Linked DNA regions of Homo sapiens: region 2 is linked to region 1. Evidence: fine-mapped expression QTL. Tissue or cell type: whole blood. Region 1 holds a variant in brackets; the other region holds the start of a gene. All regions are shown on one strand. Distances are between the middles of the regions. Region 1 holds the start of LINC02862 (long intergenic non-protein coding RNA 2862). Region 2 holds the start of ATIC (5-aminoimidazole-4-carboxamide ribonucleotide formyltransferase/IMP cyclohydrolase).

The links. PIP is the estimated chance that this variant, and not a neighbour inherited with it, causes the effect.
Region 2: it holds the start of ATIC, and the variant in region 1 is fine-mapped to the expression of ATIC in whole blood (TOPMed, PIP above 0.99).

What each region holds. Positions count from the first base shown.
Region 1 is chr2:215,270,520-215,285,943 of GRCh38, forward strand. It overlaps LINC02862 (long intergenic non-protein coding RNA 2862), which reads left to right and starts at 4,471. Exons shown (of 3, transcript NR_174956.1): 1 at 4,471-4,621; 2 at 7,089-7,164; 3 at 7,250-7,428. RefSeq lists an enhancer at 846-1,394. The variant C/T (reference allele first, on the strand shown) is at 7,220.
Region 2 is chr2:215,303,220-215,318,643 of GRCh38, forward strand. ATIC (5-aminoimidazole-4-carboxamide ribonucleotide formyltransferase/IMP cyclohydrolase) reads left to right here and starts at 8,840. Exons shown (of 16, transcript NM_004044.7): 1 at 8,840-8,942; 2 at 9,279-9,405; 3 at 14,938-15,014. The coding sequence starts at 8,924. LOC124907975 (a long non-coding RNA gene) reads right to left here and starts at 8,753. Exons shown (of 2, transcript XR_007088075.1): 1 at 7,460-8,753; 2 at 440-1,320. RefSeq lists an enhancer at 8,544-9,194 and silencers at 8,725-8,804, 8,815-9,184.

The DNA.
Region 1 (15,424 bases):
CCACCTACTCAGGAGGCTGAGGCAGGAGAATCGCTTGAACCCAGGAGGCAGAGGTTGCAGTGAGCTGAGATCGCACCACTGCACTCCAGCCTGGGCAACAAAGTGAGACTCCATCTCAAAAAAAAGTGCATGTACCTATAATTTCAGGGGTTCATGTAACACCTGAAGGCCTTGCATCCTAAATTAAAGGCTTGGGGTTTTATATACCTCTACACATCCCAGGTTCCATAGGTTAAAAATCCTGTCTGAAATGGTGAGTTTAAAAATCAATTTGGAGAAGGACATGTACAGAATGACTGTATGCAAAATAATACTGTATAGTTTCTATGTATATATAGTAAAAATATGCAAACTATGGAATAGTGAACATTGAATTCATGAGAGTTGTTACCCTTCAGAGCAAGAAAGGGTAATGAGATGGGGAAAAATGAAGGTGGCCTCAGTTATGCTTATACTGCATCATTTATTCAGAAACTATTGAAGCATATACGGCATATTATTTTAATAAAGCTTGGTGGCAGATGTATAATGAATTTTCATTATTTTATTTTCCATTCTTATCTATAAAGTTGGTATATACCCCAAAATTAAAAGGTTTCATTCAAAAACCTGAAATTATTATAAGATCTAATTCCATTGTCATGTAAAAAAGGTTATTTTTCCAAAACATCCAAATGTAAGTTCATGTTCTGAGAAACATATTTAATTCTCTCTTGTATAAAATCACCCAAGCTTATTTTCAAATACAAGCTAAAATGTTAATATTAAAAAGCAAACCATTGTTCTCTTCACAGAGTCCTCAAGTAGATAAGCCTTTATTTTTATGGCCATAATTTGATTTCTTGATAGGGAAAGAAGGAGAAAATTCTTCTGAAACTAATGTTATATTGGAACAAAATTTATTATCGATCCATATTCATTCTACTACCAGATATAATGAAAGTTTGGATAAGGTATTATTCTTTCTGGGGATTTTATGTATAGCAAAGTCAGTGTGAAGCCGACTATGTCATTGCTTGAGAGTCTGAACCTAATCGCCACTTAATTGATTCATGCTTGTAGCTGCACTGCTGCATAGCATCCCAGAGTGCTCAGATGCTACCTGTCAGGTGCATCCCATCACAATGCAAAGCAGCAGGTCTTGTGCCTGCCTTGATTTAAATGGAATGCTGGAGGAATGAAGCAGCCCAGGCAATCTGGAAGGCTGGTAGGGAAGAGGATCAGCTTCTGTTTCACCTCCCCATTGATAAAACTGACAGATCCCAGGCAGGCCTGAGGAGGTAAATTATGACCATAACATTAGCTAACTGTGGGGTAATATACACTGCTGGCCTATGGGGTCAGATCAAAGCTCCAGTCCTCCCTGTCCTTGACACCTAAGGAGAAGCAACATTAATTTCTGAGGATCTTTATTGGGCCACAGTGTTGAGGCAGAGCGTGGAACTTTTAATGTCATGGTAAGAAAAGGAGGCAGAAGCTTATTCTCTAACTATGCTCTCCAGTTGGATTAGGGATTTTAGAGACTCTGTCATTTTGGACTTGTCTTATTAAAATGATGTCTCCGCCAGCTGCCGCTCTAGCAATTAAGACAGGCCTGCTTTCCACCTAGTAATGAACTCCTCCAACGGCCTTTTCTCACCAACCACCCACACCCCACTTCCTATTGCCACAGGAAGGCCTGGCCTGGGGTAGAGTGTCTAGGTTTTGGGCGTAGGGAACCATCCCACCTATATTCTATTTTTCTTTGGATTTCTCTCTCTCTCTTTTTTTTTTTTTTTTTTTTTTGCCACTAGAGTGAGATCTGGAGGAACTTCATTTAGGCCTCTGACAAAAGACACATAGGAATGTTTTCAGCCCTATGTAGTCCAGCACAATTCGCCAGGTCTAGGAATTCCAAAAAGGATTTTGGCACCAAACCCAAACAGTAATAAACAGTGTGCACAGGCCAGGCCTCACCATCAAGGCATGGATTGTGTCTCTTATGGGGAATCTAGTAGACATGGTTGTGACTGTAAGTGGTTTTTTAGGGATTTGGTGATCTTGAGTCCCGGCCTAATATCAACTCAGAAATGACTGGCATATACCCTTGGAACAGTGTAGAACTGGGGGAAAGATAATAGGCAAAATGAAGATGGAGACATCTTGTATGAATCACCATCTCATGGCGTGGAACTATCAACTTGGCTTTTCCAAATACATGATGTTCCTGAAACCTCTGAATTACATCTCTGAATATTTGGATATTTAAGCTATTTTGATGCCTTGCTTACATTTAAGCTACCTTCCAAAGCAAATTCTATCCATCCTAATTGCTTTCAAACCAATCTTGCCTTAAAAATATTCCTACAAATCAACTGGTGTTGAATATTGATATAAGTAAATACTCTCCTTTAGACTAGAAAACCAGCATGTTTCATCACCAAATTTTTAAAAAGCAATTAATCTTCTCTTACCCATATTGAATAAGAATTCACTTTAGAATTTCCTTCTCATGAGGCAGAGCTTGACATTTAACAATTCTCATGTTTCATTTTCAGAAGTAAATGAGTATGCTGCAGTTAACCTGAGAGTTGATTCATAGTTAGGAATACAGGGAGTAACGTGGGGGAAATACCTCCTTTCTTTAGCTCAGGGGAACACACTGAGTGCCTGTAAAGTTACCCACAGTGCTATCCATATCGACTAGATTGTAGTCAAGTAAGGGCATACGATCAAGGTGCCATCAGGACCTAAGCAATATTCATGATCTCTGACAATATGGATCATGCACTGAAATTCTACAATTGTCCTTAGAGAAAATCAAAAGTTTATAGCACCACTTTTACCATAGAACATTTTTTCTTTTGGAATGGGGACAAAAAAAAAAAAGAAAAAAAAAGATTCATGGAAAGGATTTGGTCTCTGAATGCAGGTGAACCTGAATTTGAATCCTAGTGTTTGTAAGCCCTGACTATGTAATTTTGCTCATGGCCTGGTGCCTAGCAGGTGCTCAACAAGTCTTTGTTTTCTCTGAAACAGATCTGTATTTGTATCCTATTTTTTTTTTTTTTTTGAGGTGGAGTCTCACTCTGTTGCCCAGGCTGGAGTGCAATGGCATGGTCTTGGCTCATTGCAACCTCTGCCTGCCTGGTTCAAGGGATTCTCCTGCCTCAGCCCCCCAAGTAGCTGGGATTACAGGTGTCCGCCACCACTCCTGGCTTTTTTTTAATTTTATACTTAGTAGAAACAGGGTTTTACCATGTTGGCCGGGCTGGTCTCGAACTCGTGACCTCAGGTGATCTGCCTGCCTCGGTCTCCCAAAGTGCTGGGATTACAGGTGTGAGCCACCGCACCTGGCCTATATTCAGCTCCTATTGTGGCTGTAACAAATTACCAAAAGCTTCAAGGCTTAAAACAACACAGATTTATTACATTTCTGAAGGTCAGAAGTCCTTCAGCGTCTTGAGCAAGGCTGTGTTTCCTCTGGGCACTCCAGAGGAGAATGTTTCCTTGCCACGGCATGGCCCCACTACTATAGCATTTTGGACGCTATAAAAAGAAAAATCTCCTAGGCCAAATTGCCTCTACATTTCATTGTAGACACAATTAACTAAATTTATTCTTCTACAGCAGTGATTTTCAAACTTTTTGGTCTCGAAACCCCTTTATACTCTTAAAAAATATTACAGACTCCGAACGGCTGTAGTTTACGCAGGCTCTATCTGTCAATATTTATCATATTTGAAATTAAGATTGGTATTACAAGAATACACGAAGAGCACAGAAGCACACATTCCATTAAGCATCGGAACAATGATATCATTACACGTTATGGAGCCACTGTAAACCCCATTCATGAAAGAATGGGAGTGAAAAAAGCAAATAACATTAGTACTACTATGAAAAGATCTTTTACCTTGCAGACCTCCTGAAATGGTTGTAGGAGTCTCTGGGCCACATTTTAAGAACTGTTGTTCAGCTGGTGTGAAAGAAGGCGCAACAGCTAAAGAAATGCCAATTCTAAATCTCTCAAAGCAATCATCATGCTGACTATGCCCAGAACAGCACAGCAGCCAGTGTGGCCTTCTGCTGATAGGAAAGACCGAGCAGTCTGACTCTATCCTTTCCCTAAAGACTCTGGCTGTGGGCAGCCTCCATTCCCTGTGGTGTTGGAATCAACCAATGAGGAGGGGAGAAAACGCTTAGAAATAGTTTGAACAATAATAGAGTCAGCAGTTATAGTTGGTTCTAACATATTTTTAAAACTGCATTGTTATGATTCTGATGATCATACACAGTGCGGGAACTACTAGCTATTTCACCTATATATGAGTAAAACATTTGGGGAAATTTCCCTCTGGTTCAGCTGGTTATGCTGTTCACGGAGGTCCTTGACATTTGCCCAGCGGAGTCATCACCTGAAACCACGGGCAGCTGAACCCTGGGAACTTGCCTCGGTGTTTATAAATACCTCAGTTGCATCAGGACCCTACAGGTGAAAGATCTTGATACCACACAGGTATAATTACAATCTGCAAACCTACTCAAGGGGAGTTGCAGGTGAAGATAAGGAAGTCAGCCTCATTCCATTACCTAATCAGATTCTCAGCCAAAGACAAACAGCAACATATGGGACTTTAAGGTGAGCAGGGAGCCGACAGCAGCGCTACTCAAAATGTGGTCCGTGATCTGCATGGCTCTCAGAATTGTTTGTTATTGGTTCATGGCAAGTAAAGCACAGAAAATGAGAGTAAGGATTTAAAACATTTGGAAAAGTTTGACAATAGTTGTGTATCTGTTGAAACTAATCATTTATAAATGTGTTTCTATTTTGCATGACTTTTTCATTTTCCATTGTTTTGCTTCTTCAGTTTTATCAAAGTATTGGTCTGTAACAAATTGTGTGTGTTTTGTTGGGGACTGATCCATCAGTAATTTGTCAAGCACTGATCTAGAGGTTAAGGCCCTTTGGTCTGTTGGTTGAAATGTAATAACTAATTTTTTTAGACAAAAGAACTGATTTTACCTGGATATGATCTTTCTTAAAGTTTATTTCAAGTTTGATTAATCTCAATGAAACTCTGAAGTCTAAATTTAATGTCAAGATTTAGATTTGGGCCGGGAGTGGTGGCTCACGTCTGTAATCCCAGTACTTAGGGAGGCTGAGGCGGGTGGATCATTTGAGGTCAGGAGTTCGAGACCAGCCTGGCCAACATGGTGAAATCCCATCATCCATCAAAAATACAAAAAATTAACCGAGCATGGTGACACACACCTGTAATCCCAGCTACTCAGGAGGCTGAGGCGGGAGAATTGCTCCAACCCAGGAGATGGCAGTTCCAGTGAGCCAAGATCGCACCAATGCATTCCAGCTTGGGAGACAGAGACTCTGTCCCCTGTCAAAATATGTATACACACACACACACACACACACACACACACGCACACACATATACATATATATACATATTTAACTGGGCATGGTGGTATACACTCGTAGTCCCAGCTACTCAGAAGGTTGAAGTGGGAGGATTGCTTAATACTGGAAGTTTGAAGCCGCAGTAAGCTATGATTGAGCTACTGCACTCCAGCATGGGTGACAGAGCAAGACCCTGTCTCAAAAAAAAAAAAAAAGCACATTTAGGTTTGACAATTTCAGGGCTAAATAACAAATTAATTAGCAGTTATTATGTTCATCAGACATAAGGCTATTTAATATCATTTCTTTTGCCTGATTGAAGGTTTCCAGGCTTTCAGGAAGCAGTACTATTTAATCAAATACCAATGGCATACTTGTGTCATGCAATGTTACGTTCCATAGGCAATAATAAAAATGCTATCAAGGAAAAAGTCAAGAGAAGTGGCTGTGGTCTAGATAAATGAAATACAATGTAATTAAGAATATGGATCAGAAAACTTAATTTTAAAAAAGCAATTTTCTTCTTTAGGTTTGTCCTATCTTTACAGTTGTATGTAAATTTTTAACATCCAGTACAGATCTCATAGTGTTATTATCGAAGCTCACAGTTGAAAGTGCTTGTTTACAAGTGTTTATCTTGCCAAACAGATAAACATTAAGGTGCCCTGTAATGGGTTTTTGTTTTGAGTTCATCCACTGATTTGTAAAATTCTGAGTGAGTAGATCCCCTGTGTAAAAGGCTTTTAAATTTGCAAGCACAGGAGTTCAATCAATTCCAATTGTTGGAGTGGGACCAACATCCTTAGGTGAAAGAAAACATTACTTGATAACTCCTTTTATCTTTTTTAAGCTGAGAAAAGCGGCAGTCTCATTCAAGTGCCAACTTCCCAATGAGAAACACACACTTTCTACTTTATCTCCAACATAAGGCAGAAAGAATAAGAGAATTCAGCAAGCAAGAGAATATTACTTTGTATGTATCTGAGTATCTGATAGCCATCATGTCAGAAACAGATCGCATATTGAAGGTTTTGCACTTCATGGATACAGCAGTTATTAAATGGACTTATTTCTCTAATCATAAAAACCAAGTCTTTATATTTCCTCCCTCATATTATAAGTATTAAAAATTTCTGTTATCTTTTCCCTGATTATAAAAGTAATACATGTTCATTACAGAAATATGTAATAAGAAAGCAAAATCATTCATAATCATACCACATTTAAATAAAGCAATCCTAATATTTGTATATACTATTTCCCATTTTTTCTATGGGTATTCATATATGGTTATATTTCTTTTCTTTTTTTATTTTTTTTTGAGACGGAGTCTCACTGTGTTGCCCAGGCTGGAGTGCAGTGGTGCAATCTCAGCTCACTGCAAGCTCCGCCTCCTGGGTTCACACCATTCTCCTGCCTCAGCCTCCCGAGTAGCTGGGACTACAGGTGCCTGCCACCACGCCTGGCTAATTTTTTGTATTTTTAGTAGAGATGGGTTTTCACCATGTTAGCCAGGATGGTCTCGATCTCCTGACCTCGTGATCCACCTGCCTTGGCCTCCCAAAGTGCTGGGATTACAGGCATAAGCCACCGCACCCAGCTCATAAATGTTTATATTTCTACATAGCTGAGATAATAATGTATGCATTAGTGTGAATCTTATTTTTTTGTTTGTTTGCTTTTGAGACAGGGTCTTGCTCTGTCACCCAGGCTGGAGTTCACTGGCATGATCATGGCTCACTGCAGCCTCCATCTCCTGGACTCAGGTGATCCTCCCACCTCACCCTCTGGAATAGCTGGGACTTCAGGCATGTACCACTA[C/T]GCCCAGCTAATTTTTTTTATTTTTTGTAGAGACGGAGCTTCACCATGTTGCCCAGGCTGGTCTTGAACATCTGGACTCAAGTTATCTGTCACCTTGGCCTCCCAAAGTGCTGGGATTACAGGCATGAGCCACAGCACCTTGCTTATTCTTTTGTTTGCTATTAAAATATAAGCATTTTCTAGTCAATAAAAATTAACCAAGAACATAATTTGCAATGGCTGCATAATATTCTGTTATATTGAAGTTATAATAGATGTGAGGAGTTTCCTATTGCTGAATATTTACTTTTTCTAGAGGTTAAGAAGAGCTTTTAGAGTCAGAAAGACTTGACTTGTTGACTCTAAAGTCCTGGCTGGTGGTGGGTGCAGTGACTCACGCCCATAATCTCAACACTTTGGGAGGCCGAGGTGGGTGGATCACTTGAGGTCAGGAGTTTCCGACAAGCCTGGTCAACAGGGTGAAACCCTGTCTCTGCTAAAAATATAAAAATTCTGGGTGTGGTAGTGCATGCCTGTAGTCCTAGCTACTTGGGAGGCTGAGGTATGATAATTGCTTGAACCCAGGAGGTGGAGGTTGCAGTGAGGCAAGATTGCACCACTGCACTCCAGCCTGGGAGACAGAACGAGTCTTTGCCTTAAAAAAAAAAAAAAAAAAAAAAAATATATATATATATATATATATATACACACACACATACATAAAGTCCTGGGCCAGGCGCGGTGGTGGCTCATGCCTGTAATCCCAGTACTTTGGGAGGCCGAGGCAGGTGGGTCACTTGAGGTCGGGGTTTGAAACCAGCCTGACCAACATGGTGAAATCCTGTCTCTACTAAAAAAAAAAAAAAAAAAAAAAAAATTAGCTGGGCATGGTGGCATGTGTCTGTAATCCCAGTTACTCTGGAGGCTGAGGCAGGAGAATCGCTTGAACCTAGGAGGCAGAGGTTGCAGTGAGCAGAGATTGTGCCACTGCACTCCAGTCTGGGCCACAGAGCAAGACCCTGTCTCAAACAAACAAACAAAAGAAAAAAAGTCCTGGCTGGCTCTGCCACTTATTAGCTATGTGACTTTAGTCAAGTTACGTACTCTCTCTAAAGTGCAATTTTCTCATCTGTAAAAATTGGGATTATTATACAAGCTACTTCATAGGGTGGTTGTGATAGTAAATAAAGATTATGCATATAAAACAGTGCATCACAGTGTCTGACTTTTCTCAGTAAATGTTAATTATTTTGATACTGTGATAAATATCTTAGCTCATACAGCTTTGGTCTAGTTTTATGAAATTATTTAATTTAGAAAATGCCAAGAAGACTTGAAATAAACATAGAGATCTATATTTTAAAGATTATTTTTCAGCTTTCAATTTGACCAAGAGAATAACGACTGTTAGATTCCTGTAAGCAAACTATTAGGTTGCTGCAAAAGTAATTGCGGTTTTTGACCTTGAAAGTTATGGCACAAACCGCAATTACTTTTGCACCAACATAATAAGACAGCATGGAAAAGTTTGGATTTAAATGATGGAAGAACAAAAGCATTTTATGAATGTCTACTTCACTTGGAATTATTCATATTCCTCAGATGTGTTAAAAATTGAAAGATGAGGCCAGCGTGGGAGGCTAACGCCTGTAATCCCAGCACTTTGGGAGGCCGAAATGTGCGAATCACGAGGTCAGGAGATCGAGACCATCCTGGCTAACCCGGTGAAACGCCGTCTCTACTAAAAATACAAAAAAATTAGCCAGGCGTGTTGGCGGGCGCCTGTAGTCCCAGCTACTTGGGAGGCTGAAGCAGGAGAATGGCGTGAACCCAGGAGGCGGAGCTTGCAGTGAGCCGAGATCCCGCCACGGCACTCCAGCCTGGGCGACAGAGCGAGACTCTGTCTCAAGAAAAAAAAAAAAAATTGAAAGATGACTGGTTCACTTAGTGAAAGATAGAAAAAAGGAAGGAGGGGAAGGAGGGAAGGAAAACGGGAGGAAGGGAGGGAAGGAAGGAAGGAGGGAAGAAGGGAGGGAGGGAAGGAAGGAAGGAGGGAAGGAGGGACGGAGGGAAGGAGGGAGGGAGGGGAGGGGAAGGGAAGGGAGGTGGAAAGGGAAGGGGAGGGAAGGAAGGAAAGGGAAGGGAGGGAGGGAGGAAGGAGGGAGGGAGGGAAGGAAAGAAGGAAGGAAGGGAAGGAAGGAGGGAAGGAAGGAGGGAAGGAAGGAAAAAAGAAAGGAAAGGAAAAGGAAGGAAGGAAGAAAGGGAAGGAAAGAAGGAAACACTTTGCACAAGTCTTCCAAGAAATTAAACCTTTAGTATGCATTGCTCTGACCTGCCCAGGTTCACCATCCATTTTCACCTTTTCCCCTTTGTTCATCTGTTACTCCACAACTAACCTAGAAAAGTAGCTGCTGATGGCCAGTCTTCTGTAGAGGTGATGACTGTACTGAAAAATACTTTCATATTCACAAATCTGTTTGTTCCTTATATCACCAAAGATGAGAGAGAGGAAAAGAGAGGAGAGGAGAACCTGAGACATGCTTATGCGTGCTATGGACTGAATCATGTCCCCTCAAAATCTCTATGTCAAAGCCCTAACCCCCAACATGACTATATTTAGAGACAGGGTTTTTAGAAGGTAATTAAGGCTAAAGGAGGTCATATAGGCTCCTAATCCCATAGAACTTAAAGCTTTATGAGAAGAGAAAGACAGAGGAAAGAGTTCTTATTTTCTCTCTTCATATATGTGCACCAAGGAAAGGCCAGTGTGGGGCACAGTGAGAAGCTGGCTGGCTGCAAGCCAGGAAGAGAGTCCTCACCAAAACTCAGTCATGCTGGCATCCTGTTCTCAGACTTCCAGCTTTCAGAACTGTGAGAAAATAAATTTATGTTGTTTTAGGAACCTAGTCTGTGGTATTTTGTTATGGCAGCCCAAGCAGACTAAAACAACATATGCAACCAATTTTACAATCTTAAATACATGACTTCTGAAGTTCTAATCAATATTCTTATAAGTATATTTAAGAAGGCACTCCTTATATAGAGACAGGGGTAAAACAAACTATGATAATTATCCAAATCCATTTACTTTCAAAAACATCTGAAACACTGGTAAGCAATACAAGTTGCTGATCCTAAAATCAATTAATTACATTTTCCATTATTCCTAGTAATAAACTACTAAGAATTTATATGAATAAACTAGGAATAAACTAATAAATATTCCTAGGAGTAAACTAGGAAATTATTATTCCTAGTAATAAACCTAACACAAATGTATACATATGTGCACCCAAAAAAATGCACAAAAATATTGATAACCAAAAACAGAGAATGTATTCCATTAGAATACACATGTATTAAATGAATAATCTTTCTTCAAGTTCATTCTTGATGGTAAAGAATTTTCAGGCTTGGTGCAGTGGCTCACACCTATATTCTCAGCATTTTGGAAGGCTGAGGCGGGCAGATCACTTGAGGTTAGGAGTTTGAGACCAGCCTGGCCAACATGGTGAAACCTCGTCTCTACTAAAAATACAAAAATTAGCCAGGTGTGGTGGTATGCGCCTATAATCCCAGCTACTTGGGAGGCTGAGGCAGGTGAATCGCTTGAACCCAGGAGGTAGAGGTTTCAGTGAGCCAGGATCGTGCCACTGCACTCTAGCCTGGCCAACAGACTGATTGAGACTGTCTCAAAAAACATAATTTTTAAAAAGTGTAATTTTCCTTCTATTTACATTTTTAAAAGAGCTTGGGCAATGAAGTTTATAATGACAAGTGTAGCAGCTAATCCCCAAGATGGCCCTTGTGTAGTTTCCTTCCCATATTCAGTAAGGCTAACCTGTGTAGCCAATGGGATACTGGGAAAATGATGTAGTATGGCCTCTAAGGCTAGGTCATAAAATGCATTGCAGCTGCTACCTTGCTTTCTCTTGGGTCACTCACTCTAGTGGATGCCAACCACCGTGTTGTGAGGACACTCAAGCAGCTCTGTGGAGAGGGCCATGTGGTAAGGACCAGAGGCCTCCTGCCAACAGCCAGCATCAACTTACCAGCCATGTGAGTCGGCCATCTTGAAGCAAGTCCTCCAGCCCCTCTCAAATGCCCCAGCTGGCATCTTGACTGTTAACCTCATGAGAGATCCTGAGCCAGAATGACCTAATGTGCCCCCGGATTCTTCACCTTCAGGAAATTTATGCTATCATAAATGTTTATTATTGTTTGAAGCCAGTAAGTTTTGGAGTAATTTGCTCTGTGTGCAGTGATAAATAGATAACTAAAACAACTGATGCTGGTACAGTTACAGCATAGTTCATCTCTCCCAAGTAAAACTTTACTTATTTCATGACGTATATGAAGAATTTAGAAAAATAAATTTAAAAAATCAACTTTGGGGTCAGGTAAGGATATTTAAAATCTAGCACTTCACAAGCACATCCCAAAAGAGTATATTCAAGTAGTATGTAAGTATATAAAAGGATACTTAACCTCATTAGCCATAGGGTATTCAAATTAAAACAACAATGAGACTGGGCATGGTGGCTCACGCCTGTAATCCCAGCACTTTGGGAGGCCGAGGCAGGTGGATCACCTGAGGTCAGGAGTTCAAGACCAGCCAATGTGGTGAAACCCTGTCTCTACTAAAATACAAAAATTAGCTGGGCATGATGGTTGGTGCCTATAACCCCAGCTACTCGGGAGGCTGAGATGGGGGAATCACTTGAACCCCGGAGATGGTGGTTGCAGTGAGCCAAGATTGTGCCACTGCACTCCAGCCTGGGCAGCTGAGCGAGACTCTTGTCTCAAAAAAAAAAAAAGAAAAGAAAAAAAAAAGAAAACAACAACGAGAAAAACTGTTCACCCACCAGAGGGCTAGAATAAAAAATAATGATAACATTTAGTGCTGGTAAGGATATGAGGCAAATGAAACTCTCATATACTGCTGAAGATTGTGTACAATCACTCTGGGGAATTATTTGGCAGTACAGGAGGTACTAAAGCTAAACTGCATACACCTTGTCACATAACCATTCCACTTCTAGTAGTAAACCCAACAGAAATGTATACACATGTGCACCAAAAAAGTACAAAAATATTGATAGCCAAAAACAGAGAATGATCTGTATGTCCAATAGCAGTAGAAAGGATAAATTGGGATGTGTTCACACAAGAAATACTGTATAGCAATGAGAAATAAACAAATTACAGATATTTCCAGCAATAATAATAGATTTCACATATGTAATATTGAGTGGAAAAAAGCTGTTTTTTAAAACAAAAAGTGGGGGCCGGGTGCGGTGGCTCATGCCTGTAATCCCAGCACTTTGGGAGGCTGAGGCGGGCAGATCACCTGAGGTTGGAAGTTCGAGACCAGCCTGACCAACATGGAGAAACCCCATCTCTACTAAAAATACAAAATTAGCCGGGTGTGGTGGCGCATGCTTGTAATCCCAGCTACTCAGGAGGCTGAGGCAGGAGAATGGCTTGAACCCAGGAGACAAGCTGAGATGGTGTCATTGCACTGCAGCCTGGACAACAAGAGTGAAACGCCATCTAAAAAAAAAGGAGGGGGGGTACATAGTATGTAATTCCATTCATATAAAGTTCAAAAGCAGGCAACACTAATTTATGGTGATGGAAATCAGGATAATGGTCACCTTTGAAGAGGAGGAGGAAGCAACTAAGATATGACATAGGGTGGGGAGCTTTTGGATGTTGATAATAATCTATTTCCTCATTTGTCTGCTGGTTATGCAAGTGTGTTCACTTGCTGGATATTCCTTCAGATGTATACTTATGATTTGTGCCCTTGTCTGTATGTATGTTATTCTCAGACAAAAAGTTTACCAAAAAAAAAAAAAAAAAAACACTCAACATGGTAAGGAATAAACCCCAATTTTCTCATTTTCATGGTTGAACTCTCATTAGGTGGGAGAGTGCTCTTGTTGTTAGAAGCTACATACTGAATTGTCAAAAGGTAATAGGGCACGTTTGTAATTCTCAAATGGCTTAGGGGTAAAAATATAAAATATGTGTTATATATGAATATATAATATACATGATACATCTGTGGAATGAATATATATGTGTGTGTGTGTGTGTGTGTGTGTGTGTGTGTATAGAGAGAGAGAGAGAGAGTGCCAATGATGAAGCAAATATGTTTTTTTTTCTTTTAAATTGCCAGGTGCGGTGGCATGCACCTGTAATCTCAGCTACTTGGGAGGCTAAGGCAGGAGGATCACTTGAGTCCAGGAGTTTGAGACCAGCCTAGGCAACACAGTGAGATGCTGTCACACACACACAAAAAAAACCCAAACAGGTCAGGTGCAGTGGCTCACACCTGTAATGCCTGTAATCCCAGCAATTTGGGAAGCCGAGGTAGGTGGATCACCTGAGGTCAGGAGTTCGAGACCAGCCTGGCCAATGTAAGGAAATGCTGTCTCTACTAAAAATACAAAAATTAGTCAGGTGTGGTGGTGCGTGCCTGTAGTCCAGGTAACTGGGAGGCTGAGGAACGAGAATCGCTTGAATCCAGGAGGCAGAGGTTGCAGTGAGCCAAGATCATGCCAATTTGATCGTTCCAAAACAATTGAGGAGTTTGAGTGAAGGGTATGTGAGAGTTTATTGTGTTTTTCTTGTATTTTTTCTGAAACTTTGAAACTCTTTCAAAATAATTAAAACGTATTTTAAAAACACCTGTTAGCTGGGTGTGGTGGCACACAACTGTAGTCTTAGCTACTCAGGAGGCTGAGGCAGGAGGATTTCTTGAGTCCAGAAGTTGGAGGGTTTAAAAAAAAAATCCAACTGTTCCACTTACTAACTGTATTTCCATGGGCAAATGGTGAACTTCTCTATGTCTCAGAAGACTCTTCTCTTAAGTGGGGATATTAGATCAGGAATGCTGGCTCACACCTATAATCCGAGCACTTTGGGAGGCCAAGGTGGGACGATCACTTGAGCCCAGGAGTTTGAGGTTACAATGAGCTATGGTTGCACCACTGCACTCCAACCTCAGTGACAGAGCAAGACCTCGTCTCCAAAAAAAAAAAAAAAAAAAAAAGAGTGGGGATATTAATATCTACCTTTCAGGACTATTCTAATGATTTGACAAAATAATAGAAATAATAGGTAACAGTTATATAACTTGCCCTAGGTCACACACCTAGTTTTTTGTTGTTGTTGTTAGTTAGTTAGATTTTGTTTTTGTTTTTGTTTTGAGACAGAGTCTTGCTGTGTTACCCAGGCTAGAGTGCAGTAGTGCGATCTCGACTCACTGCAACCTCCCCCTTACCAGTCAAGTGACTCTCCTGCCTCACCCTGTTAAGTTGCTGGGACTACAGGCGTACACCACCACGCCCAGCTAATTTTTGTATTTTTAGTAGAGATGGGGTTTCGCCATGTTGGCCAGGCTGGTCTCGAACTCCTGACCTCAGGTGATTCACCCGCCTTGGCCTCCTAACGTGCTGAGATTACAGTCGTGAGTCACCACGCCCAGCCCACAGACCTAGCTTTTATGAGCCAGGATTTAACCCAGGAATTCTGACTCCAAAACCTACACTCTCATCTAATGCACAAATCAATCAAGTGAATGTCACGTAGCAGGCCATTAGTGGTACCTAGAATGATGACAATGCTTGTATTAGTTTCCCAGGGTTGCTGTGACAAAATATCACAAACTGGCTGGCTTAAAACAATACTTCTGCAGGGCAGAAGTACAAAATCAAGGTGCTGCCCGTGGTATCCAGCCTTTGATGCTTCTTGGGAAGGATCTTTCCTTGCCTCCTACACTTATTGTAGTCTCAGGTTTGCCTTGGCTTGATGGCAACATAATTCCATTCTGTGCCTCTGCCTTAATGTGGCTTTCTTGTGTGTGTGTGTGTGTGTGTGTGTGTGTGTGTGTGTGTGTATCTCCGTGTCTCTTCTCCCCTTCTTATAAGGACACCAGTCATATTGGGTTCTGGCCCTCTGTAATTCAGTATGACCTTGTCTTAATTTGAGTACATCTGCAAACACCTTATTTTTAAACGAAGTCACATTCACGGGTACTGGGGATTAGGACCTCAATATATCTTTTGGGGGAACACAATTCAACCAATAACAATGCTTACGAACTTTCTGCCCTTTTCTTGCCAAATAGAAATAAGTTTAACTGGAAGGACTCCCCTTGGGAAGAGAGGAGACGAAGCTTGGACATGAAAAAAAAAGAAAAAAGAAAAAAGAAATCGC
Region 2 (15,424 bases), 33 kb after region 1:
GTGGCTCACACCTGTAATCCCAGCACTTTGGGAGGCCGAGTTGGGTGGATCACGAGGTCAGGAGATCGAGACCATCCTGGCTAACATGGTGAAACCCTGTCTCTACTGAAAATACAAAAAATTAGCCTGGCGTGGTGGTGGGTGCCTGTAGTCCCAGCTACTCGGGAGGCTGAGGCAGGAGAATGGCATGAACCCAGGAGGCAGAGCTTGCAGTGAGCCGAGATCATGCTATTGCACTCCAGCCTGGGTGACAGAGCGAGACTCCGTCTCAAAAAAAAAAAGGAAGAAAGGAAACAGACAAATGAGTGAAATTCAATGCTACAGGTGTTACAATTAAATAAGCTCCTGCATCAAAAAAGGGGAAACAATCAATCCACCACATGGAGGATACAGCAATCAAGAAAGCCTTTAGAGACAGAGGTAACATAAGATCTATTTGTTCTTGGATTCATTCTGACATTTTATTCGTAGAAACATTGGTAGTAGGAGTCCAGGTGCTGAGAAAGCTGTAACAACTATTAATGCTGATGGTGGCTATTCAGCCAAGTGTGAGATATGATAGAGACTGGAGTTAAGTGGTTGACATAAGTAATCTAAAATAAGAGGCAGAGGCCAGGTGCTGTGGCTCACACCTATAATCCCAGCACTTTGGGAGGCTGAGGTGGCTGGATCACTTGAGTCCAGGAGTTCGAGACCAGCCTGGCCAACATGGATAAACTCTGTCTCTATTAAAAATACAAAAATTAGCTGGGTGTGATGGTACACGTCTGTACTCCCCGCTTTTTGGGAGGCTGAGGTGGGAGAATCGCTTGAACCCAGTAGGTGAAGGTTGCAGTGAGCTGAGGTCGCACCACTGCATCCAGCCTGGGCAAAAGAGTGAAACTTTGTCTAAAAAAAGAAAAAATTATTTCCTTGAAGAAGCTTTTCCCTCCCCACCCACAGTCCCTAAGTAGATCCCTCTATAATAAGACTTGCTTCTGTCTTGCATTATCAGATTTCCCTCTTCACTACTGAATCGATCAGTGTTATGGACAAACAAATGTGATTATTCTTTCAGATTAAGAAAAAACAAGGCTGAGTGTGGTGGCTCACACCTGTTATCCAAACATTTTGGGAGGCTGAAAGCAGGAGGCTCACTTAAGCCCAGAGTAACATAGTGACACCTAGTCTTTACAAAAAATTAGCCAGATGTGATGGCGTGCATCTGTAGTTCCAACTACTTGCTAGGCTGAGGAAGGAGGATCTTGAGTCCAGGAGGTCGAGGCTGCAGTGAACTGTGATGGTACCACTGCACTCCAGCCTGGGCAACAGAGTGAGACCCTATATCAAAAAAAACAAAAACAAAATGTCAATAAGCTCCCTGGACCCACTTGTACCACCAGCTACCACCCTATTCCTCTACTCTCCTTTTAGAGTAGTGGTTCTCATCTGGGGGCAATTTTTCCCACAGGAGACATTTGGCAATGTCTGGAGACACTTCTGGTTGTCACAACTGGAGTAGGGGTGCTACTGGTATCTAGTGGTAGAAGGCTTGGATACTACTAAACATCCTGAAATGCTCACGACACACCCCCCATTCCCCCCGCCACACACACACAATAAAGCATTATCCGCTCCAAAATGTCTATAGTTTTGAGGTTGACAAACCCTGTTTAAGAGCAAAACTCCTTAAAAGTGTCATCTTTATTCCACATCTCCAATTCCTTCCCTCTTTGTGTCTCATTTTTTTTTTTTTGAGATAGAGTCTTGCTTTGTTGCCCAGGCTGGAGTGCAATGGATCACTGCAACCTCAGTCTTCCAGATGCAAGTGATTCTCGTGCCTCAGTCTCCCAAGTAACTGGGATTACAGGTGCGCCCCACCACACCCAGGTAATTTTTGTATTTTTAGTAGGGACGGGTTTCACCATGTTGGCTAGGCTGGTCTCAAGCTCCTGACATCAATGATCCGCCCACCTCAGCCTCTCAAAGTGCTGGGATTACAGGTGTGAGCCACCATGCCCAGCCCCCTCATTCTCTCTTGAACCTACTCCAGCCAGACCCTCATCTCTACCACTTCCCCAAATGTGTCCTTGTCAGGATAATCCAACATCTAATGGTTACTCTCAGTCCTCATCAGACTTAACCTGCTGGCAGTATTTGACACACAGTATCATAGGTATCCAGTGTCCTACACTTAACCCTGTTCTTCCCCCCAGGGCTACTACATTTGTATCCTTCCCAATTTCAGCTGATGTCAACTTTATTCTTCCAGCTGTACAAGCGATCATCAATGCTCCTTCTCTTCCTCTCAAACTTGGCATCCAATTTGTCAACAAATCTTATTGGCTCTTCCTTCAAAATATATCTGGGATTTAATTACCTCCTCCAATGTCCACTGCTGCCACTCTGGGCCGTGCCACCCTCATCTTTCACCTAGTGTCAAGGTCCTGGATCATTGTGAGAGCTTTCGTAGGGATTCCCCTGTTCCACCTTTGCTCTCATACAACCAGAGTGAGTGTGTGAAAGAGGTAAATTAGATGTCACTCCTTCCCAAAACTCTCCAAGGGCTTCCTTTCTCATTCAGAATAAAAGCCGAAGTCTTTACGATGTGCCCACACGGCCTTATCCAACCCGATTGCTGACATTGTGTCTTCCTTCTCCTAGTGAAGTTCCCTCTGTTGCTACCATACCACCCTTCCTGACATTCCTTAGACACTACAGCCACACTCCCTATGCACGGCCTTTGCACTTGTTCCCACTGCCTGGAACTTTCTCCTTCAAATACCCTGTGGCTTGTTATCCCCCACCCAGCCCTCCAGTCCTCACTCAAATGTACCTTGTCAGTAAGAAATTCTCTGCCAGGCCTTCCTAAAGGTGCAGCTACCTCTGCCCTGTCCCTCTTCTCTGCTTTATTTTATCCAAAAGGATAAAGTGTCTCTTCACCTGTGGTCCACAGTGGCTCATGCCTGTAATACCAGTACTTTTGGAGGCCGAGATGGGTAGATCGCTTGAGGTCAGGAATTCAAGACCAGCCTGGCCAACATGGTGAAACCCTGTCTCTACTAAAAATACAAAAATTAGCCGGGCGTGGTGGCATGCACCTGTAATCCCAGCTACTCGGCAGGAGAATTGCTTGAACCCAGGAGGCAGAGGTTGCAGTGAGCCCAGATCGCGTCACTGCACTCCAGCCTAGGTGACAGAGCAAGACTCAGTCTCAAAAAACCAAAAAACATTAAATGCCTTCCTGAATGAATTTTCTTTCTTTAGCTTTTTTTGTCGCTCGGGTTATCTACTAGACCTAATTAAGCAAGCTTATCTTCTTCCAGGCTTCAACTACTACTTGAATTTCATTAATTTTCCACGTTTATTTATCTTTAACCTCACTTTTATTCCTGAATTTCATTTGTATTTCCAACAATTTGCTGTATGATTTTAACTGTGTGCACCAATTACCTAGACTTTAAAATCAATATTTAGAAACTCAAACTTATTTACCCAACCACTCACACTGACCTTAAATTAAAATAAACACATGCCACAACTGTTCTTTCTCTTACATATATTTTTATATTTTGGGTGTTGCCTCACCAGCTACTCATATGACGAAGCTAGAAATGATGGAATCATCCCTAGTTTTTTGTGTCTAATATTTCCTATATGTCACTGATCCCTGCATGCTGCTAATTTTACCTATTTTGAATCGTCTCACATAGATAACCTCTTTTCCACCTTCTTATGTGTGAGTGGATGCAAAACCTTCCTAACCAGTTTCTCTACTTCCTACTATTCCAATTCATTCTTTGTATTATTGTCAGCTTTATATCTCCAAACATCTCCAGGACTTTCAAGAAAAATGTTTGAATTTCATACTAGGTCATAAATTAGCTTAATGTTCTGAACTACAGTAGAGAGGAATTTTATACCAAGCTCCTGGGAATCCCTTTATATGATAAACTACATCCACTTGAGTGGACAAACCCTTGGAGCAAGTCAGCCCAAGATGATGCAGCTTTATTAATCGTTAGAGTCCAATAGGAGATCCAAGACTTGGAAGGGAGATGGAGGTTTTTCAAAGAAAGTGATGAGCTTGGCCAGGCGCGGTGACTCACACCTGTAATCCCAGCACTTTGGGAGGCCGAAATGTGCGAATCACAAGGTCAGGAGATCAAGACCATCCTGGCTAACATGGTGAAACCCTGTCTCTACTAAAAATACAAAAAAAATTAGCCGGATGTGGTGGCGGGTGCCTGTAGTCCCAGCTACTTGGGAGGCTGAGGCAGGAGAATGGCGTGAACCCAGGAGGCGGAGCTTGCAGTGAGCCAAGATTGCTTCACTGCACTCCAGCCTGGGTGACAGAGTGAGAGCGAGACTCCGTCTCAAAAAAAAAAAAAAAAAAAGTGATGAATTTACACAAGAAACAAACAACATAGGGGCAAAATCAGATTATAACACCTTCAAAGAACTGAAACAATTCATGTACATTAAATATTTTAAGGTATATTACTATGATTTTAGGGTCTTCAAGCTTCTCTTTGGAGGTATGTGAAGTAAGAAGAAATGAAAATGTAATCATTATAGTGTATACACGCCCTTTCTGTCTTTCTGAAACAATAATCCTGCGATAAACCATTGGTAAAAGATGCATTCTCATCTTTATGAGAACATCTCCCTTTTCTAAGACACTAGCTTGCTGGTGACTAGATCTTTGAAGACATACCTTGGTGCCCAGAAAGATACCTGATTAGCCAGACCAAGGGAACCAAGAAGATTACACCTCTATTTTACTCTTCTTAGTCTCTTTGCAGTTTGTACTTTCAGTAGACTACCTGTACTTAATTCGCTTCTTAAAATATGATGAGGACTGCAGAAAAAATATTATGTCCATATTACAGGTAAAGCAACAAAGGTCCCCAAAAGATGGAGTGACTTGGCCAGGATCACAAAGCTAGTAAAAAATTCATTTACTCTTTTTGTCATTAACATATTAAGTCCTATCAAGTCGGGATGCTAAAACTATGGGAGAATTAATCAGAGTAAATATCTTTATTTTTATTTTTTGAGACAGAGTCTCGCTCTATAGTGCAGGCTTGAGTGCAGTGGCACTATCTTGGCTCACTGCAACCTCTACCTCCTGGTTCAAGCGATTCTCCCACCTCAGCCTTTCGAGTAGCTGGGATTACAGGCACCGCCACCATGCCTGGCTAATTTTTTGTATTTTTTTAGTAGAGACGGTGTTTCACTATGTTGTCTAGGCTGGTCTTGAACTCCTGAGCTCAGGCAATCCACCCGCCTTGACCTCCCAAAGTGTTAGGATTACAGACGTGAGCCACTGTACCCAACTTACTTTTTGTATTTTTAGTAGAGACGGGGTTTCACCTGTTGGCCAGGCTGGTCTCAAACTCCTAACCTCAAGTGATCCACCTGCTTCAGCTTGCCCAAGTGCTGGGATTACAGACGTGAGCCACCACTCCTAGCCTGTTATTTTTTTATTTTATTTTATTTAAGAGACAGGGTCTTGCTCTGTAGCCCAGGCCGAAATGCAGCCGTGCAACCTTAGCTCACTGTAACCTCGAACTCCCACCTCAGCCTCTCAAGTAGTTAGGACTGCAGGCATGCACTATGTTGCCCAGGTGGGTCTCAAACTCCTGGCCTCAAGTGATTCTCCTACCTCTGCCTCCCAAAGCACTGGGATTACAGGCATGAGACACTACACCAGGCCCCAGAGTAAACATCTGTAAATGGAAGAGTCTGTAATGAAAGAGGCTCTACAAAATCAGTTTAATGCCGTGTTTTCTCTATTATTATTATTTATTTATTTAATTTTTTCTTCTTTTTTTTTTTTTTTTGAGATGGAGTCTCGCTGTCGCCCAGACTGGAGTGCAGTGGCCCGATCTCGGCTTACTGCAGGCTCCGCCCCCCGGGGTTCATGCCATTCTCCTGCCTCAGCCTCCCAAATAGCTGGGACTACAGGCGCCCGCCACCTCACCTGGCTAATTTTTTGTATTTTTAGTAGAGATGGGGTTTCATTGTGTTAACCAGGATGGTCTCGATCTCTTGACCTCGTGATCTGCCCGCCTTGGCCTCCCAAAGTGCTGGGATTACAGGCGTGAGCCACCGCGCCCAGCCTATTTATTTAATTTTTTGAGACACAGAGTCTCGCTCTGTCGCCCAGGTTGGAGTGCAGTGGCGCAATCTCGGTCACCGCAAGCTCCGCCTCCCGGGTTCACACCATTCTCCTGCCTCAGCCTCCCGAGTAGCTGGGACCACAGGCGCCCACCACCACGCCCGGCTAATTTTTTGTATTTTTAGTACAGACAGGGTTTCACTGTGTTAGCCAGGATGGTCATGATCTCCTGACCTCGTGATCCGCCCGCCTCCACCTCCCAAAGTGCTGGGATTACAAGTGTGAGCCACCGCACCCGGCCTCTATTAATATTTTTTAGTTATACTTCATGTGTCTACATTTTCATTCCATCATGAGCTCCTTGAGGACAGTGCTTAGGTGATATTTATCTGTCTTCTGACACTGAGTTTCTGCCATCCAAGCAGAAAAGGCTCAATAAAAATGTATTGAATCGAATAAATATTTGTAATTCACATGACAGACAAATGCATAATGCCGAAGCAACTGTTTATTTCCCCTTATCAATAAATGTCAGCATTGTTTTCTCCTTTCCTTGCTTTCGATTTCCTGTAAAAACCTGATGGTGACTGGCCAAGGAAATATCCTTTTTAAATTCAAATTTGGCAAACACACTGAAGACATGCGATAATCTTAATATATTCCTCGTAGGAATGTGAGAAGTGTTCAGAGCAAAGGGCTAACATATTTAGAGGTCAAAAAATTGATTCCAGGCTGGACGCGGTGGCTCACGCCTGCAATCCCAGCCCTTTGGGAGGCCAAGGCAGGTGGATCACCTGAGGTCAGGAGTTCGAGACCAGCGTGGCCAACATGGCGAAACCCCATCTCTACTAAAAATACAAAAATTAGCCAGGCATGGTGGCACGCGCCTGTAGTGCCAGATACTCGGGAGGCTGAGGCAGGAGAATCGCTTGAACCTGGGAGGCAGAGGTTGCAGTGAGCCGAGATCGCGCTACTGCACTCCAGTGTGGGTGACAGAGCGAGAGTGTGGGTGACAGAGCGAGACTCTGTCTCAAAAAAAAAAAAAAAAATTGATTCTAGTCAATAGGTATTTATTTTGGGGAGTAAAGAGATGGGAAGAATTAGAGAAAGGAAGAGGAAAAACAAAAATAAATAGCATGCAGATAATGAGAAAATAGACTCATTTTTACAGCTGTGAGCTCAGACTAAAAGATAAACAATGCTATTACTTTGGAATATAATTCTAATAACACAAAAAAGACTCATAGACCACAATATGTATTTATTTTGTGGCAAAGGTGTCATTTTTAGAAAGAAACAAATGTGTTCAATTTTGCTTTCCCTGTTTTTAATGAATTAAGAAAGGTCTTCTCTTACCTTCTTTTGACTGTCATCATTCCTCTCATCCAGGAATATTTACAGGTTTGCAAGAAGACACCATCTTTAAGTAGTTTTTAGGCACTTTTACAATACTGACTAAATTGTATAAAATAGTATTATAAATTAATATTTAAATTATAATTTTATGACGTGAAAATCAACAACGAATGTCAATTTCACTTCGTTTTGACTGTCATCTGTGGCCTCTGGAGTCCCTCACTTAAATCATTGGTCCTTGGTTTTATTTTTTAAGCCTATTAAAAAGGAGGATGGGGCCGGGCACGGTGGCTCACACCTGTAATCCCAGCACTTTGGGAGGCTGAGGTGGACAGATCATTTGAGGTCAGGAGTTGAAGACCGGCCTGGCCAACACCGTGAAACCCCATCTCTACTAAATATACAAAAAAAAAAAAAAAAAAGTACAACAACAACAAAAAATTAGACGGGTGTGGAGGCAGAGGCAGGAGAATTTCTTGAACCTGGGAGGCAGAGGTTGCAGTGAGCTGAGATGGTGCCACTGCTCTCCAGTCTGGGAGACAGAGCGAGACCCTGTCTCAAAACAAACAAGCAAACAAGCAAGCAAGCAAACAAACAAAAAACAAGTTGGGCATGGTGGCTCACCCCTGTAATCCCAGCACTTTGGGAAGCCGAGGCAGGCGGATCACCTGAGGTCAGGAGTTTGAGACCAGCTTGGCCAACATGGCGAAACCCCATGTCTACTAAAAATACAAAAATTAGCCGGGCATCGTGGCGCCTGCCTATAATTCCAGCTACTCGGGAGGCTGAGGCAGGATAAACTCTTGAACCCGGGATGTGGAGGTTGCAGGTTGCACGTGACATAGCCGAGATCGCGCCATTGCACTCCAGCCTGGGCAACAAAAGCGAAACTCCATCTCAAAAAAAAAAAAAAAAAACAAAAAAAACAAAAAAACCCAGAAAAACAAAAAAACAACAAACAAAAAGGGAGGATGGTAGATAACTGTCCAGATACTTTCCAGCTTTGCCGCTATATGAACTATTCCTTTTGTTTAGTTTTCAGCATGGGAGCTTCTGGCACTTTTACGTACTTTCCAGCTTCTGGGGACCGGCTGCCTAGAATAACAGGCATTTGCCCCAGAGGCCGTGGAGTGGCCTCACTTTGGGGTCGTGGGCAGATCGCTGGCTCCCACGCCTGGACTTCGGGATCGCAGGCAGGATCCCTTCCAGCCCAAGCACTCCGCCCAGGCGCGCCAGGCAGAGCCCCACCCCATCCCGCCGTTCCCTTCAGCCCCGGGGCGCGGATCTTGCATCTGAAACTGAGCAGAGCAGGGCGCCGGGCAGGGCCGGCGGGCCACGTGATAAGCCCGGAAACAGCTCCGCCCCCTCGCTTCCTGAGCCGCCACATCCCGGCAGCCCTCCTACCTGCGCACGTGGTGCCGCCGCTGCTGCCTCCCGCTCGCCCTGAACCCAGTGCCTGCAGCCATGGCTCCCGGCCAGCTCGGTGAGGCCCTAGCGGAGCGGCGCGGTCTGCGTCCTCGCCTGCGGCCCCCCACGCTCCCGCCTTGGCGGCGGCCGGCGGGACCCGGCACTGCAGGGGCGGCGCTGCGGGATTGAAAGCCAGCGTCCCCGCTCCCCGGCCGGGCCGCAGCCTGCGTGGGGCCCGCCTTAGAGCAGCTCGCGGGTGTAAGACCTGGGGAGGCCCGGACCAGGCCTGCGAACGCAGGGTCCAGGTGCTGGCCTTGCGATTCGAGAATCTCCTCCCCCAGACCCTCCCAAGGCCTTGCAGAACACAGTGCAATGTGCTGCGAATCATGAGAAAAAATGTCTTCTCTTTCAGCCTTATTTAGTGTCTCTGACAAAACCGGCCTTGTGGAATTTGCAAGAAACCTGACCGCTCTTGGTTTGAATCTGGTCGCTTCCGGAGGGACTGCAAAAGCTCTCAGGGATGCTGGTCTGGCAGTCAGGTAAGGCATAGCTAGTTCCATCAGAAAGGAGTGTGATCACATTAACCAGGAAGTATTGTATTCCAGGCACCAGCAGCAAAACGCCTTATTTACTCCTCCCAGTAGCGCTGTGAGGTTGGTGTAATACTTCCCCACTTTATGGGGAAAAAAAGTGAGGCTCAGAGAGATTTAGCAACTTTTAAGACCCTGGACGGCTGGGCTAGGTGGCTCACGCATGTAATCCCAGCACTTTGGGAGGCCGAGGTGGGCTGATCACTTACGGTCAAGAGTTCGAGACCAGCCTGGCCAACATGGTGAAACCCGTCTCTACTAAAAATACAAAAATTAGCCGGTATGGTGGCACACGCCTGTAATCCCAGCTACTGGGAAGGCTGAGGCAGGAGAATCGCTTGAACCTAGGAGGCGGAGGTTGTGGTGAGCCGAGATGGCACTACTGCACTCCATCCTGGGTGACAGAGAAAGACCCTGGACAACACACTGGACAGATTTAGCATCTTCTGCACAAGTTTAAACAGTTGAGTAAGGGAAAAGTAGGATTGGAACCCGTGCTGTTCCTGATTTTAGGACACTAGTCTTAGCCCCTTCCTTAAACAGATTAACTTAGGTGGGCCACTTGTTATGCAAGGAAAACTTCAGTTACTTTGACTGGTGATTTAATAAAACTCGACATCATGAAGATTCCAATTTACCTGCCTTCCCTTAGAATCTCTGGTAACCATATGAAGGTGCAAATCATTCATTCCCACGTTCACAAGCCCTTCATTAGCTGACTAGGCCATGGAAAGAAGGGACTTAGAAATGATTAACCAGGATGCCATTGCTGATGTCAAGGAGTGGCATTCTGGGAGGAGAGGGAGGAAGTCTACTGAAAGGTAGAAAAATGAAAAAAACTATAGGATAGCTATTTAATAAACGGCAGTGAGAGTTGGGAGGAACGAGATGACCACCCCTGAAACATATTTTAGAATGAAAGAGATGAAGGATATCTGTCTGCTTTTTGTTGCCATGTGGAAAATTTGCTTCTTGGTTTCTAGATCCATGTAGAGGTAGGTTATTACCTTTTCTTTGTGCAGTTCCCAGCTATGTGAGCAGTACACAGCTTCCCTAAGTTTAACAAGTTCAGATGGTAAGAATGCCTTACTTTATTAACAAATACATAACTGTATATTTTCGGATGTCTTTTTGCGTCTTGTCTCTGTGGTTTTCATGGGAAACCTGTGAGAATCGTGGCAGGCAAGTTGGCTCTTTGCTCATCAGCAACCGAATGAGAATTCAAAGTCCAGACCTGCGTGCTTTCCATTGGGCCAAGTTGGGTCCTCCTATGGTAATGGAACCTTCGTAAAGCAAAATCCTCATCTGTAGTCTCTTTTTTTTCCCCACCAAACTTTGTATTATGGAAACATTTCAGACACAATCAAAAGTAGAAAAGTATAATGATCCCTTGGGTCCTATATCTGTCACCCACTTTAGGTACTTATCAACTGATTAGTCTTGTTTCTGTACCTATACCCACTCCTCACTTATCTTCATTATGGTCATATCTTCTTTAAAAACTGGAAATGTAAATGTGTTTCTCTTCTATGAAAGGATAAGAAGTTCACCATGAGTGATTTATTTAGACCCCAGCACAGTAAAGTTCACTGAATGAAATGTAAACAACTTGGAGCAATTGTTTTTTCTTCAACAAAGGCCACATTCAGTTGCAGTGGTATTTTATTCAGTTGCAGTGGTATTTTACATATATAAACTCTTATAGTCCTTATAACAACTTTTTAGTTTAGGTAGTGTTATCCTCATTTTATAGGTGAGGAAATTAAGCACAACGTAGTTAAGTAACTCGCTCGAGATTACACAGCTAGTTAAGAGGCCAAGATTTTTTTTTTTTTTCTCTGAGATAGAGTTTCACTCTTGTTGCTCAGGCTGGAGTGCAATGGCACTGTCTCAGCTCACTGCAACCTCTGCCTCCCAGGTTCAAACGATTCTCCTGCCTCAGCCTCCCAAGTAGCTAGGATTACAGGCGCCCGCCACCACGCCTGGCTAATTTTTTTGTATTTTTGGTAGAGACAGAGTTTCACCATGTTGGCCAGGCTGATCTCGAACTCCTGACCTCAAGTGATCGCCCGCCTTGGCCTGCTGGGATTACAGGTGTGAGCCACCGCACCCGAGGCCAAGATTTTGTAGGGGTGGAAAGGTGTGATCCTTTGCTCTCCATCGTAAACGTCACGGCCAATATTTTTATAAGAGAAGACAGGTTATAATAAGAGAAAAGCATAACAAATTTATTTAACAAAGTTTTACATGACATGAGAGCCTTCAGAATGAAGACCCAAAGACAGAGGAAAAACCATCCATTTTTATGTTTAGGTTCAACAAAGAATGGACAGAAAGGTGGAAGTATGATTGGACAGCAAGGATATGGTGTATGCTAGTAGACTGAGGTGGAGAAAGCCAGGAAAGCCTGTCTGTCCAGATTCTTCTTGGCTTCTCTAAAATTCTTTCTCCACCCCCTAAGGATCTCCTGACCTACTAATGGGCAAGGAGATGAGAGGATTTCTTTACGTCCAGCTCCTAGACAGAAAGCCAGTGGAAAGTTAGAATCATAAGTTTAAATCTTATGACTGGCTTTGGGGAAAAAGAGTTTTAGTTTCTGTAAACTGCCCTGGGGAAGAGAAATTCTCATTTCTGTGACTTCAGGGAAGAATGAAGGGTGAGAGGCAAGAGGGCAGGAGAAAGCTATATATATATATTTTTTTAGAGGGTTTTACTCTGTCACCCAGGCTGGAGTGCAGTGGCACAATCATGGCTAATTGCAGCCTCGATCTCCCAGGCTGAGGCAATCCTTCCACCTCAGCCTCCTGAGTATCTGGGACTACAGCTGCACACCAGCATGCCCAACTAATTTTTGTATTTTTCATAGAGATGGTTTCACCATGTTGTCTGTCTGGTCTTGAACTCTAGGGCTTAAGCAATTTTGCCTGCCTTGGCCTCCCAAAGTGCTGGGATTACAAGTGTGATCCACCATGCCTGGACAAGGTCTTGGTTCTGGCTGGGCGCAGTGGCTCACCCCTGTAATCCCAGCACTTTGGGAGGCTGAGGCTGCTGGATCATCTGAGGTCAGGAGTTTGAGCCCAGCCTGGCCAACATGGTGCAACTCCATCTCTGCTAAAAATACAAAAAAGAATCAGCCGGGTGTGGTGGCGTGCACCTGTAATCCCAGCTACTCAGGAGGCTGAGGCAGGAGAATTGCTTGAACCCAGGAGGTGGAGGTTGCAGTGAGCCGAGATTCCACCACTACACTCCAGCCTGGATGACAGAGAGAAACACTGTCTCAAAAAAAAAAAAAAAGATCTTGGTTCTGAGGCTGCTTCTGAGCATATTTTTGGGTGTTGTTATCTGCAATAATTTTATCCCAGGAAGTTAACCATTACCTTGTCATGAGGTAAACTGATGGATTTTAATTAGTGAGTATACAGCAGTGAGCATACATAGAATTATTTCCCGAGACTACAGCCATTATGTATAAATTCTTCAGTTCAAAGGAGTAGCAAGCTTTTTAATTACCCCAAATGTTTAATTCTAGAAATAAATCCGCCTTCTCTAAGTTTTAAGTGACTGTCTTCATTTGGAGGAAATGGATTTTATTTCCTGAACCCCAGGAAAAGAAATTTTGAATTTGAAAACACTTATGTCACCAGTTTGTGGATGTTGGAACTGTGTGTGTCATTGGTCAAACACCAGTCATTTGCAAATGGCTCCCCTTAACAGGAGAATCTACCCAGGAAATTCCGTATCTTACTGGCAGAACTTGCTGCTTTAAAGTGTTTATTATAGTCTCAGCTACTTGGAGGATTACTTAATAAGCCCAGGAGTTCTAGGCTGCCATGGACTGTAATCTTGCCTGTGAATAATCACTGTACTCCAGGCTGGGCAACATAGTGAGATCCCATCTCAAAAACTATATATGTTGATTGTAGAAAATTCGAAAATATGGACAACTATAAAGAAGGTAGTAAAAATGGATTGTAATTCTTAACATGCTAGTATATTTTTCTTCAAGCATTTTTATAAGCATGTACTTTATTTCATAGCTTACACAGAAGATAGATGCAGTTTTGCTTCCTGCTTTATTTATTTTTATGTATTTATTTATTTTTTGAGACGGAGTTTTGCTGTTGTTGCCCAGGTTGAAATGCAGTGGCACAATCTTGGCTCACTGCAACCTCCGCCTCCCGGGTTCAAGCGATTCTCCTGCCTCAGCCTCCCAAGTAGCTGGGATTATAGGCATGCCCCACCATGCCTGGCTAATTTTGTATTTTTAGTAGAGGCGGGGTTTCACCATGTTGGTCAGGCTGGTCTGGAACTCCCTTACCTCAGGTGATCCATTCGCCTTGGCCTCCCAAAGTGCTGGGATTACAGGTGTGAGCCACCCCACCTGGCCCCTGCTTTATTTTTTCTTATATATTGTGGGCATTTTTACACACCATTACAACTTATAAAGTCTGCCAGAGTGTTCGTGGTTACGACTTTCTAGGGGTCTGCTTTGTGATATGGATTAATATTTACTGTCCTTCACTTGACCCTTTGTCACATTGTGTGATTATTTTTTCTAGTTTACTTTTTTTTCCCATGTAAAACTTTTTATTTAACATTTCTGTAATCAGAACTCTCAATCTTTTGTTTAAAACTTGGAAAGCATTCCTCACATATTTAATTTTGCTACATGCATGATTTTTTAAATGCTAAACCTTTGATTCATAAGGAATATATTTTTGTTTGGGTTTAACCCGTTATTCCAATAGCAACACCACTTTATTAAACAGTCTTTTATGTCTTCACTCACTTGATATGCCATCTTCATGTGTTGTTGTTGTTGTTTTTTGAGATGGAGTCTTGCTCTGTCGCCCAGGCTGGAGTGCAGTGGCATGATCTCGGCTCACTGCGACCTCCAACTCTTGGGTTCAAGTGATTCTCCTGCCTCAGCCTCCCCAGTAGCTGGGATTACAGGTGCCCGCCATCACGCTCGGCTAATTTTTTGTATTTTTTTAGTAGAGCTGGGGTTTCATCATGTTGGCCAGGCTGGTCTCAAACTCCCCTCCTCAGGTGATCCACCTGCCTCAGCCTTCCAAAGTGCTGGGTTTACAGCCATGAGCCACCGTGCCCGGCCAAGGATATTTTTAATGCTTTTTGTTACATACTGCCAAATTCTCAGTTGTATGTCTTAGTAATATTTAATGAGTATGGCTTATGATTCAGTTTCTAAATGCTCTGAAAATTATAAAACCAGTGCTGTAGTAGTTACCAATTATCCCTGAACATACACAACAGTTAGGAAATAAATTAAATAAACTTTTTTTCGGAAGTAAATAGAATTTTACTTAAGAAATAAAATATAGTGAAATACTTTAAAAAATCAGAATTTTCACGTTGAATTCAGGCTCAAAATCTCTTGAAATGAAAACAGTAGATGCTTTGAATAGTGAAAATTACAATTCAGCCACACCAGTAGTACCATTCTGTTTATCTGTTTTTCAGAGATGTCTCTGAGTTGACGGGATTTCCTGAAATGTTGGGGGGACGTGTGAAAACTTTGCATCCTGCAGTCCATGCTGGTAAGTGGTTGGTATCTTTAATGTAAAAACAGTCAGTGGTTTCCAGGAATATTTTAGTTGATAGCGTCCTAAAATAAAGGAAGAAAAAGGCTCAAGAGAAATTTACATATAAAGTTAATGTTATGAAGTTGCTGCCAGATTTCATAATACGTTAGAACTGGTTTAAAATCCAGCTTGTCTTACTACTTGATGAATTCAGATTGTTTTCCTCTGCTTGCTATTAGTCCTGACCTGATACCTAATTTAGAGTCTGGTGTTTCCTGCTCAAGTTGCTGAAGATATTTAGATTTCATCGTATGAAAATACTTTTAAAATAGTTCAAACTTAGAAGAAAGCATCACAGCGTAACTGACTTGCAAAGGAATTTTTTTTTTCAAAGTGCTTTACATTTGTTCGTTCACCTAAGAATG